Regions from separate parts of the Homo sapiens genome. Here region 2 is linked to region 1. The links come from fine-mapping of genetic effects on gene expression. Tissue or cell type: whole blood. Region 1 holds a variant in brackets; the other region holds the start of a gene. All regions are shown on one strand. Distances are between the middles of the regions.

Region 1 (5,324 bases):
CATAGTATCTGGCCAGTAAGAAGAAATTATGATTATTATTTTGACCTTAGACCTCTCTTAACTGTCTGAAATTCGGGTTTCTTAAAGGACACAGGCGGTCTCTGAGGCTCCCGCCAGCGGAAACAATCTCCCATTAAAATAGGCATCGGTTAAATATTTGCTGAACAAAGTAAACTACGTCTCCCCGAATCCCATTGAGCGCCTACTCGAGATCCGGACCGGAGCCGGGCAGGACGGGCCCGTCGGTCCCACACGCCGTATAAGTGGGTGGAGAATACCCCACACGCCCAGACCAATAGGCGGGGTGAACGAGGACCGTGTTCACCAACTCAGCCCGGCTCGCGGAATGCCTTCTGTTCGCCTCCGGGCTTGCAGTGGCTTTCCGTCGCAGGTCAGGCCGCGTTCCACTTCCGCCGGCAGTCCAGACACGCCCCTCCGGGTCCAATCCCCGCCCCTCACACACCTGGCCCCGCCCCGTCGGGAGCTCGGCGGTCCTCTCTGCGCTAGGTCTTCTTAGCGCCCGACGGGGCCACGCCCATCCCCGACGCTCTGAGGTCACCTACAGGGCCGACCCTCGGTGGGCGGAGGGACGGAGGGAAGATGGCTGCAGAGACCGGATATTGGCGCTGCCTCCCCGAATCCCGGACCTGCGCTGAGGAGGCGGTTCATCTGTGGCCAGCGGTGCTTCGGGACCCGCGCTGGGGGAACCCTGGCGACGGGGCCTGGCCCTGCTATATGCGGGGGCCTCGGCTGGAGTGAGCGGCGTGGACGCCTCTTTCCTCCGGCTCTTCCCTTGTTGCTGCGAGAGCGAGAGGGCCGCGGGCGGCGGAGGCAGCGGGGCCGGGATGGAGGACGTTAACTCTAACGTGAACGCGGACCAGGAGGTGCGGAAGCTGCAGGTGCCGGTGAAGAAGCTGGGGAAGCAGCACGAACAGCCGAGGAGCCGCTCGCGCTGTGCTGGGCCCCGGCTCCATCGCGGTTCGCCGGCTCCTCCACTCCCTCCTACGGCGCGGGGTCCCCTCGGGGCTTCCCCTTGGGTCTCAGCGCAAAGTCGGGCGGCGGGGCCGGATGGACCCGAGGCGGACGAATAACGAGGAGCTGCGAGACGCCACCTTCTTGCTGGCGGCGGGGGAGGGCGGCTTGCTAGACGACCTGGAGCGTCTGTCAGGCTAGGAGGAGGGGGAGGAGAGCTGGTGAGCGCCGGGCGCCGGGCGGGGCTGGGCGGGGACGCCCCGGTGGCGGAGGACGTCCCGGAGGATCCCTCTGGTCGGGCGCCTGGCTTTGTGTAGCCAGCCAGGTCCGCTCTCGGCGGGTACTCGTGGTCTTGCTCTGGCAGAGGGGAGGTCAGTTGGAGTTGGGGGTTCGAGGCTTGCAAGTACAGGGCTTGTAGCTCCTTCTCTGGATTGTGGACCCTCTGGGTGCTGGGCCCTATTGGGGTTGGTGGGTTGGTTGGATCCAGAAGGGCTGTTCGCCGTGGGGAGGAGTCGGAGGTGGGAAACTGCTTTGTAGGCAGGGATTCTGCTTTGTATAGGAGACCAGCTTTCGGATGCTGGTCTGGGCATTTTGGATGTTGGGGAGGGGTTTGGCTTGATGAGGTATCACCAAGTTCGGGGGGTGCAGACCAAAGTCGCCGACGTCTATGCAGCGGTTGGTGTTTGGGATCAATTTCTAGCGTGGATGGGGAGACCATGTGGATCAGCACTCCCCTTTAGGTAGTGGGGTAAAGCTTGCTCTGTGTGAAGAGGTCAGAGGATGGTGGTGTTTTGTGTGAAGAATCAAGGGTGAAACAAGAGCCCTGGCTCTGATATTTTAAAACAAGAATTGAGTCTGGCATTTTGCAGAGCTCTGAATTGACATTTATCACATCTATCCTTCATTTCCATGTCCTCCTATGGGCAGAAAAGAGTCCTATTTTAATACCTAAACCAAAGCTGTATTGTCATAAGCCACTTCTTGATGAAATTGTGACACACACCTTAATATCACTTTCATAAATAGGAAATGGGAGGCTTTTCTCCTCATTTTATTATAAAGATGTCTGTGGGAAATTCTCTTAATTCATCCTCTTTAAAATTTTACCTTTTAGCTAAAATGTCTCTGTTGAAATTCAA[A/G]TTTCTAACTTAGTGAAATCGAAATCATTCATAGACTGTAGTATTGCAGGGCTCGAACTGTGCAGTGTTCTGAGGTAGTTAAGAGCTTTGCTGGATTCAGGCCCTGGGTTTGCCCAGGCCTGTATGACCTTGAGCAAGTTATTCTGAGCTTCACTTTCTTCCTCTATGATGGAGAAAATAATGATAGCACTTACCTCTATAGAGTTATGAAAATTTAGTAAGATAATCCATGTATGCATTTAGCACTGTTGAGATCTTGGCTTACTGCAAGCTCCGCCTCCTGGGTTCACACCGTTCTCCTGCCTCAGCCTCCCGAGTAGTTGGGACTACAGGCACTGGCCACCACTCCCTGCTAATTTTTTGTTTTCGTATTTTTAGAAGAGACGGGTTTCACCGTGTTAGCCAGGATGGCCTCGATCTGACCTCGTGATCCTCCCGCCTCGGCCTTCCAAAGAGCTGGGATTACAGGCATGAGCCACCATGCCCAGCCTATTACTCTTAAGCCTAGTTATTTAAATCAAACATTTAGTGAGCTCTTACATGATGTTATAGGAGACTCTGAAGATTCTCAACTGTTGATTCCTGTTCATAAGGCAGTTATAGTCTTGTTGAGAACTAAGTTTTATGCAGATAAATAAACTAGAAAGTGTATGGTGAATTGCCGAAAGAGAGAACAAAAGTACTGTCAGTGCGCAGTAACTGGGAAGAAAACAGTAGTCCAAAGTAGAGGGGCCAAACTTTGAGGAGGAGGCTTTGGAGTCTGGAAGTGAGGAAAGAGTGGGAAGGGCATTTTATGCTCTGACAGCTACAAGAGCAGAGTCAGAGATATTTGTAACTCCCAGTTAGGAGATTTGAATAACAGAAGTACTCTTGAGTATATGGTGACAAACCTTTATTTTTTATTTACTATTTTTTTTTTTTTTTGAGACGGAGTCTCGCTCTGTTGCCCTGGCTGGAGTGCAGTGGCATGATCTCAGCTCACTGCAACCTCCGCCTCCCAGGTTCAAGCAATTCTTCTGCCCCAGCCTCCCAAGTAGCTGGGACTGCAGGTGCCCACCCCCATGCCCAGCTAATTTTTGTGTTTTTAGTAGAGATGGAGTTTCACCATACTGGCCAGGCTGGTCTCGAACTCCAGACCTCGTGATCTGCCCGCCTTGGCCTCCCAAAGTGCTGCGTGAGCCACCGCACCCAGCCGACAAACCTTTATTACCAGGTGATATCAAATATTATTAGAGCTGACTGTGGTAGTGACAGTTTTTCATATAAATGAAATTGCATCCTCCCAAAGGAATCCTGAGTATGTATGCACTTTAAAAGAACCCAGAATCATCTAAATATTGTCACATGGCTCTTGCAAGTGATGATAATAGTGATGCTTATAATAATGAGGATTAGCTGCACTCATCAGCCTGTAGAAAGTAAAAAGTTTCCTTTTCGAAATTTCCTTTCTTGTTAAAGAATAAATCATAAGTGTTAGAAATAATAGTTTCTTTTAAAGACTAACTTCCTTCAAGCCTCCTCTGCTCTGTGCTAATGACTCTTCATTAAGCCCTATCCTATGTAGCTGTTAGATATAAGGGAATAAGTATATTCTATGTCCTTGTACTTTAACCAAGATATTTGTGCTGGACATGCTCACAGGCACGTTCCAGCTTGCAGCCTATGCCCCTTCCTTATTTGGAAATATTATTACTTTTCTAAGTCTTTTTGCAAGCAACTTCTTCTTTTCCTTTGTTCTCTATTGCCTTTCCCTATATAGGAAAGTTTTAAGTTATTAGCCAGTCGGGTTTAATTTAAATTGTGAGGTCCAGCTCCAGCCAATGGAGACAGGACACAAGCTGCATAAGGGATAAAAACTGCTTCCCTCCTTTGTTCGGGTGTGCTGTCACCATTGTTTCATCTGTGAGGAGCACCCTTTCTGCAGAAAGTAAAATTGCCTTGCTGAAAAAACTTTTTGTCTAAATGCTGGTTTTTCCTTGCAGTACCTAGGAGCAAGCATTCTGTTTCTAAATAAACATTTTACTTGTAACAATGGCGGTGGCCTGTACAGGGAGCCATTCTCCTCCGGGGGTGGGGGGGTGGGTCTCTGGTCCTCTCTCATGAGGAAGGCGCCCCACTGCCTTGTTGTAGCGGCCTCAGGGTAAGGAATCGAGACCCACCAGTTATGACAAATAAACTGGACTCTCAGCAATGTGGAAAGAAACCGGCTGGTGACCTGGAGTAAAAGATCCTCACATACCACCTGGACCAGGCAACTCTGCACAGACCAAGAAAGGAAATGCCAGGGGAGACAGTAAAATACTTCCTTGGTGGTCAGGACTAAGGAAAAAGAAGCCACAGGGCAGTGAAGCATTCTTTGGTTGGGACATACCAAGGTAAAGCATTCCTTAGGACTAAGGAAAGAAAAGCCGCGGGGAGGGGGGGCGGGGGTGGTGAAGTATTCCTTAGTCGAGGTGTCTTGGAGGTTAAAAAGAGGTGAAAAATCCCCATTAGGGGGAGATTGAACCTCACAGAAACTTCCGGTCATAGGAAAAATGTTCAAAACTTCCCTTTCCCCTATTCTTGGGGGAAGAAAGAGGCAAGGGAAAGAGCAGCAGAGAAGAAAGAGAAACTAGGAAAGGAAGTCAGAGAAAGCAAGAGCAGCGAACGTGGCTCCACATTGTTGTGGATTGCTGGCACCTGGCAGAGCGGCAGTGGCTGAGACACTCTCCTCACTCCCGGCCGAGCCAGCCAGAGCCAGCCAGAGCCACCCAGGCTGCTGGCCCCCGAGCCCCGCACCTTCCGTGCTGCTCGGGTGCATCCTGCCACCCTCAGAGGCTAGCTGGCCACGGACACCTGCAAGTTGGAGCCGAGTGGGAGACAATGAGCGCACCGGAGCCAGGAGCCTGTGCCACGCAGCCAGGCAGCCAGGCGCGCCAGAGGGTGGGTCCCTCTCCCCAGCCTGGCTCTGTGTGGAAGAGGGCAGGGACCGGTGCCGGGAGGAGAGCAAAGGAGGCGAAGGGGCATGACTCATGCAACTTGGGGCAGGCGTCTATCTGCCTAGCCGCTAGGCCGGCGGCGGTGGCCCGGACTGTGGCCATGCAGATCCCACCCAGCCCAGAAGACTAAGTGTAAGAGAAAGAGGAAACGGGATGACAGAAAAAGAGCCCAAATGAGAGGGAGAGAATAAGTGAAAGACTGAAAGAGACAGAGATCAAAGAAAGTCACAGAAGG
Region 2 (5,142 bases), 25 kb after region 1:
TTACATACAGAAATCATTATCACTAAATATATCTTAAAAATTAATTTTTCCTATTTTTGTACTTTTTAAAATGTGGCTACCAAAAATTAAAATTACAGATGTAGGCCACACTGTGTTTCTGTTACACAATGCTCCTTTAGAGGGATAGAAGATTATTTGCATTATTTAAATGAAAATATTTTTGCTTTTTATTCCAGCATACTTAATCTCCAATGATTTTTAAAATGTTAAATTTATTCTCTCATAGGAAAATGGCTTTGTAAAGAAGCTTGAGCCTAAATCTGGCTGGATGACTTTTCTAGAAGTTACAGGAAAGATCTGTGAAATGCTCTTCTGTCCTGAAGCAATACTGTTGACCAGAAAGGACACTCCATATTGTGAAACCGGCCTAATTTTTCTGACTCTTACGAAAACGATTGCCAACACATACTTCTACTTTTAAATAAACAACTTTGATGATGTAACTTGACCTTCCAGAGTTACAGAAATTTTGTCCCTATTTAATGAATAAATTGTATGTATTTTTCTCTATATGCCATTTTTGTCTTCAGTTTTGGAGTCTGGCTGGAAATTCAGCCAAAGGGTAAAAGCTCAACACAGGATCCAGGCAATTAATTATGGGATGATGACCAGGAAGGCGGTGTCTTTTCTGCCCCAGGCAGACTTTTAAGGTGTGCCATTACCCCAAAAGTCCTTTTCTGTGTCACTAGGCTAGACTGCAGACTAGACTGAGAAGCGGACTCAGGCTAGAAGCAGACTCAGGTCGGCTTCCCTCTTCCCTCCTTCCTTCCCATGCTTTCTGCAGTTTCCAGTGCCCCTGGCTGCTTAAGAGTTTCCATTGATGCCTCCTCCCCAGCCTTCTCTCTCTGGCTTGCCATTTGGGGTTGATGGATATGGCAACCTGATATGCAGGATACTCTGGGATATTCTGAACAAAGAAAATTGGTAAATGATTCAACGTGGAGCTAGTGTTAATTTTAATTTTTATTTTTTGGTAAAAATGAACAGATTAGAAAAGTACGTAGTTTGTTAGACCTCGTGTTCTAACTTTTAGGTCAGCAAATCTAATTGCACTATGTATACGCTGTACCTGCCTGGCCTTCCCTTTTTCTTACAACACAGTCCCCCTGGGACTTGCATTAGCTTTCCCTGGAAGCTGTTGATAGATTCCATAAAGAAGCCAGAACTCCCCTCTCAAGCCATGTGCATTCTCACCGGGCACTTAATTAATGCTTTACCTAGGAGGTGTGATTCTTAACGGTGGGGATTAAGACACTGGGGCGGTCAGTAGGGACGTATTTTTGGCAGAGACAGCTCTGGTTTTCTTAGGAAGTCACATCTGAGAGGCAACCGTCTATGCCATCTGAGGCGCCTGTCTACTGGGAGCAGTTTAAGACTTAACAGTTTCTTTTACCTCTTCCTGCAAGTGCCTCACCCACCCCCCAACTGCTTTTAGTTTTAATTCATTTTTGTGTTTTAATCAGAGCTGAGTGGTGGGAATGAACAGTCACTGATGGTTATAACAGGAAGTACCTATGTGGGCACTATTACCTGGAATACATTCACACTAGAAACCCGCAAAATTTGGCTTTTACACTACAGTTATTGCTTTAGCAGTGTTCCCGATTATGTATCATCTATACATTCATCACATAAGGACATTTCCATCAACCACTGTGGTCCCTTAAGATTATAATGGAGCTGAAAAATTCCTAATACCTACTGATGTGGTAGCCAACCAACACATTACCTTTTCTGTGTTTAGATACACAAGTATCACGGTGCTTACAATTGCCTACAGTATTCGGTACAAAATACGCTGTACAGGTGTGTAGCATAGGTGTGTAGTAACTTTGTGTAACTACACTCTGATGTTTGCACAAGAAGGAAATCGGGGCATCTGTCAGACCTATCCCTGTAGTTAAGCGACTCGTGACGATTTCGCTACATGTCCTGCCTTGCCCTTCTTTTCTGGCCCCTGAAGTCCCACTACTGAACAGTACAAGAGATGCCAGGCACCGTGGGTACTGCCGGCCATCTTTACCATCCCCGCCAGTGGCGCTGCCGCCTCCGCGGTCCCGGTGAGGGCCCAGGCTCAGGGAGGTCAGGCGGCAGGGCAGCGACGGCGCCTCGCCACCGCTCCCCTAACCGGGGAGGGCGAGCCGGACCACGGGGACCGCACGAGGGCTGGGTCCCAAGGGCCAGAGGCGAGGTAAGCGCGCGGCGCGCCGCGGGCCCGCGTCCCGGAAGCGGGGTGGGGGCGCTTCCCCGAGCCCCGACCCGCCCCTAGGCCGCGGATCCACCTGGGAGCGGCCAGGGGCGGAGACCGAACCCGAGGGCGCCCAGGGCGCCGAGGGCGGGACTGGACTCGGCTTGGGCGTGAGATGGCGGCGGCAGCGGTGAGCAGCGCCAAGCGGAGCCTGCGGGGAGAGCTGAAGCAGCGTCTGCGGGCGATGAGTGCCGAGGAGCGGCTACGCCAGTCCCGCGTACTGAGCCAGAAGGTGCGAGGCCGCCCGTAGCGGAAGCCGCGGCGGACAGACCCTCCGAAGGCCTGGCGGCCAGCGATTGCTGATCTGTGCATGGTCCGTGCTGGCGCTGGGCTAGGCGCCCCCCCACCCCCCGGCGCGCGCACGTTTCCCCTCCCGGCGCGCGCACGCCCCCTAGTCGTGGTCTGGACGCTCTTGGCACTATGGCGGGGAGAGGGCCCGGTAGTGAAAGTTGTGGGGCTAAAGAGCGAGAGGACGGCAGGGGTTGACAGATTTATCTCTGGGAGGGGAGTTTGTTTGCATGGGTGGCTCTTTTGGTGCTCGAAAACCCTCCGTGGGGATGACGGTGCTGTGGTGAGAGCACGGTGAGAACAGAAAGTTGTGGTAGAGGAGATGGGTGAACACCTGAGTGCCCAGGTTCCCTCAGTGAGGCCTAAAGTTAATGAGCTACGAGTAAGACTCCGGTTATATTAGTAAAATGGCCAGAGAAAGATGCAGGTGCTTTAGACGAGGGAACACCAAAAAAGGTGTGGAGATGCCAAAGGGCAGAACTCAGAGGTTGACTGGACTTCACTAAGCATATGGAGGGCTAAGGCTGTGTCTCAGTAGCTCCAGGGCCTAGGCTTTTCCTGTCTCAGAGTTGGTCAACATTAAATGCTTTTTCTTGAGTGAACGAAAGGAAGACTTGGCTATCATATCCAGGCTTCCCAAGAACGTAGGAAACAGAAGAGAGAAATGAGAGGAATAAGTGAGGGTCCGTGTTTGTTGGTTAGCAGACCTCTGTTTCATTACTTTCACCAACTGCACTGCTATGTATTTTTAGTCTATGTAATGTCAGTTTTCTTATCAATAAAATGGCAGTCATATCCTGTTGTGAAGGCATGTTCTAAAGAGTTTTTGGGGACTCATTTTTGTTAGACACCAGAGGAAGAAAAATTTAATGTCCCCTGAATAAGTACGTATTTGTAATTCTGTTGTAAGTCAAACTGATGATCTGTCTTCCCAGCATCATGCTTCAGAGACACCAGATATTTGGAAACTTGATGTTCCTTGGAATTAGTTATACCATCAGGCTTTCTTAATTACCCTTCACTATTCTATTATCCGTTATTTACTCAAATTCAAGGTGCCTATGGGTTAAAGCAGTAAAGCATATATGCTCATTTCACCCCTCTCTTCATCTATGTAGGTGTGTATGAGGGAATCTATACAGATGTTAATTCGTTCGTTCAAACAGAATTATTTTAGCTATTATGAGGAAGCATTGCTGGGTGTTTTAGTAGATGTAAAGGATATAGACTCTTGTCCTTACTATCTAGTTGTTTAAAATTTAGCTAATTCATTCACATATGTTGAACACCTATGTAGTGCACACTTGGCTATATACTGGGTTGTGGAGATGAAAAAGATATGATTGTTGCTCTAAAGGAGCAGAGAGCCTAGAAGAGGAAACAGACATGAATAAAGAATTGCATTGAAGCCAGATATATGATAAAGGTAAACACCAATGTTGTGGAAACATAGCCTTGGGGAGGGGAAATTGGAAAGCTTTCTATTGGAAAATGTTTGAGATGAATTTCGGAGAACAAGATGAATTCTTTCAGGTGAAGGGAAAGATGGGATAGGGGAGTGTGAGTAGGGATATTTAGGCAAGAGATGACAGGATACAGTTTAGCATGGGCTTTGGAACTGCACAGATCTGGGCTGAATCTGGCGCCATTGTTTTTTAACTGTATATCCTTGGACAGGTCTCATAATCTCTCAGAACCTTTGGTTCCTTGTCTATAAAATGGATAATATCACTCTTGTAGGTCGATTGTGAGAGTTAAAGAAGTGTGTAAAGGGATGTATTCAGAGCTTTACCTATTGTTTGTTATGTCCTTTAGGAAGAGTATAATGGCAGCATTTGGATAATGGGTTGAGGAAGGAAGAAAGAAAAAAAATATGGAGACCAGTAAGGGGCTGTTGTGCCAATTCAAGTGAAAGATGAAAAATATGCAAACCAGAGCATGGGCAGTGAAGATGAGGGGAAAGGAGGCAAATGGGAGACTGTTAAGTGAGAAACAGCAGGACTTGGCAACTGATTGGAAGAGGTTAGAGAATACTGGAAGGGGAGGAGAGTCACCAGTGATTCCAAAATTTAGAGCTTGGTATAATGGTGTTTAGCCTTAGGCATAAAGAAGGTAGGAATTGGAACAAATTTTGGAGGGGCATGGGGAAAATAAAGATGAATTCAGTTTCTAATCTTCTACGTTGTCTTTCTCCGTAGAAGATTAGAATTCATAAACTATAGATGGAAATAGTTTACATAGATACAGAGTCACTGACAGCAATAGAATGACGACTGAGAGCTGGCATTAAAGGAGGAGAGAGAAAAATTAAAAAGCAGACCCATGACCCTCAGTAATAAATACATTTTACTCTGTACAAACAAATATACACATACAAGGAACATTTTACAGCTCTTAAGCACATACAATGAAATTTAATATTTTCTTTTTTTTTCAAGACAGAGTCTTGCTCTGTCGCCCAGGCTGGAGTGCGGTGGCATGATCTCGGCTCACTGCAACCTCTGCCTCCCACGTTCAAGCGATTCTCCTGCCTCAGCCTCCCAAGTAGCTGGGATTACAGGCACGTGCCGCCATGCTCAGCTAAT

What was found. PIP is the estimated chance that this variant, and not a neighbour inherited with it, causes the effect.
Region 2: it holds the start of MTHFS, and the variant in region 1 is fine-mapped to the expression of MTHFS in whole blood (TOPMed, PIP above 0.99).

The regions. Positions count from the first base shown.
Region 1 is chr15:79,919,012-79,924,335 of GRCh38, reverse strand. ST20-MTHFS (ST20-MTHFS readthrough) reads left to right here and starts at 1,244. Exons shown (of 4, transcript NM_001199760.2): 1 at 1,244-1,297. ST20 (suppressor of tumorigenicity 20) reads left to right here and starts at 584. Exons shown (of 3, transcript NR_037653.2): 1 at 584-884. It overlaps ST20-AS1 (ST20 antisense RNA 1), which reads right to left and starts at 1,565. Exons shown (of 1, transcript NR_028330.1): 1 at 1-1,565. RefSeq lists enhancers at 1-5, 207-256, 687-866 and silencers at 397-546, 1,167-1,216, 1,227-1,296, 1,317-1,426. The variant A/G (reference allele first, on the strand shown) is at 2,112.
Region 2 is chr15:79,894,231-79,899,372 of GRCh38, reverse strand. MTHFS (methenyltetrahydrofolate synthetase) reads left to right here and starts at 2,359. Exons shown (of 3, transcript NM_006441.4): 1 at 2,359-2,501. The coding sequence starts at 2,385. The region is part of intron 2 of ST20-MTHFS (ST20-MTHFS readthrough); the gene reads left to right. It overlaps ST20 (suppressor of tumorigenicity 20), which reads left to right. Exons shown (of 3, transcript NR_037653.2): 3 at 248-531. RefSeq lists an enhancer at 1,861-1,910 and a silencer at 2,051-2,350.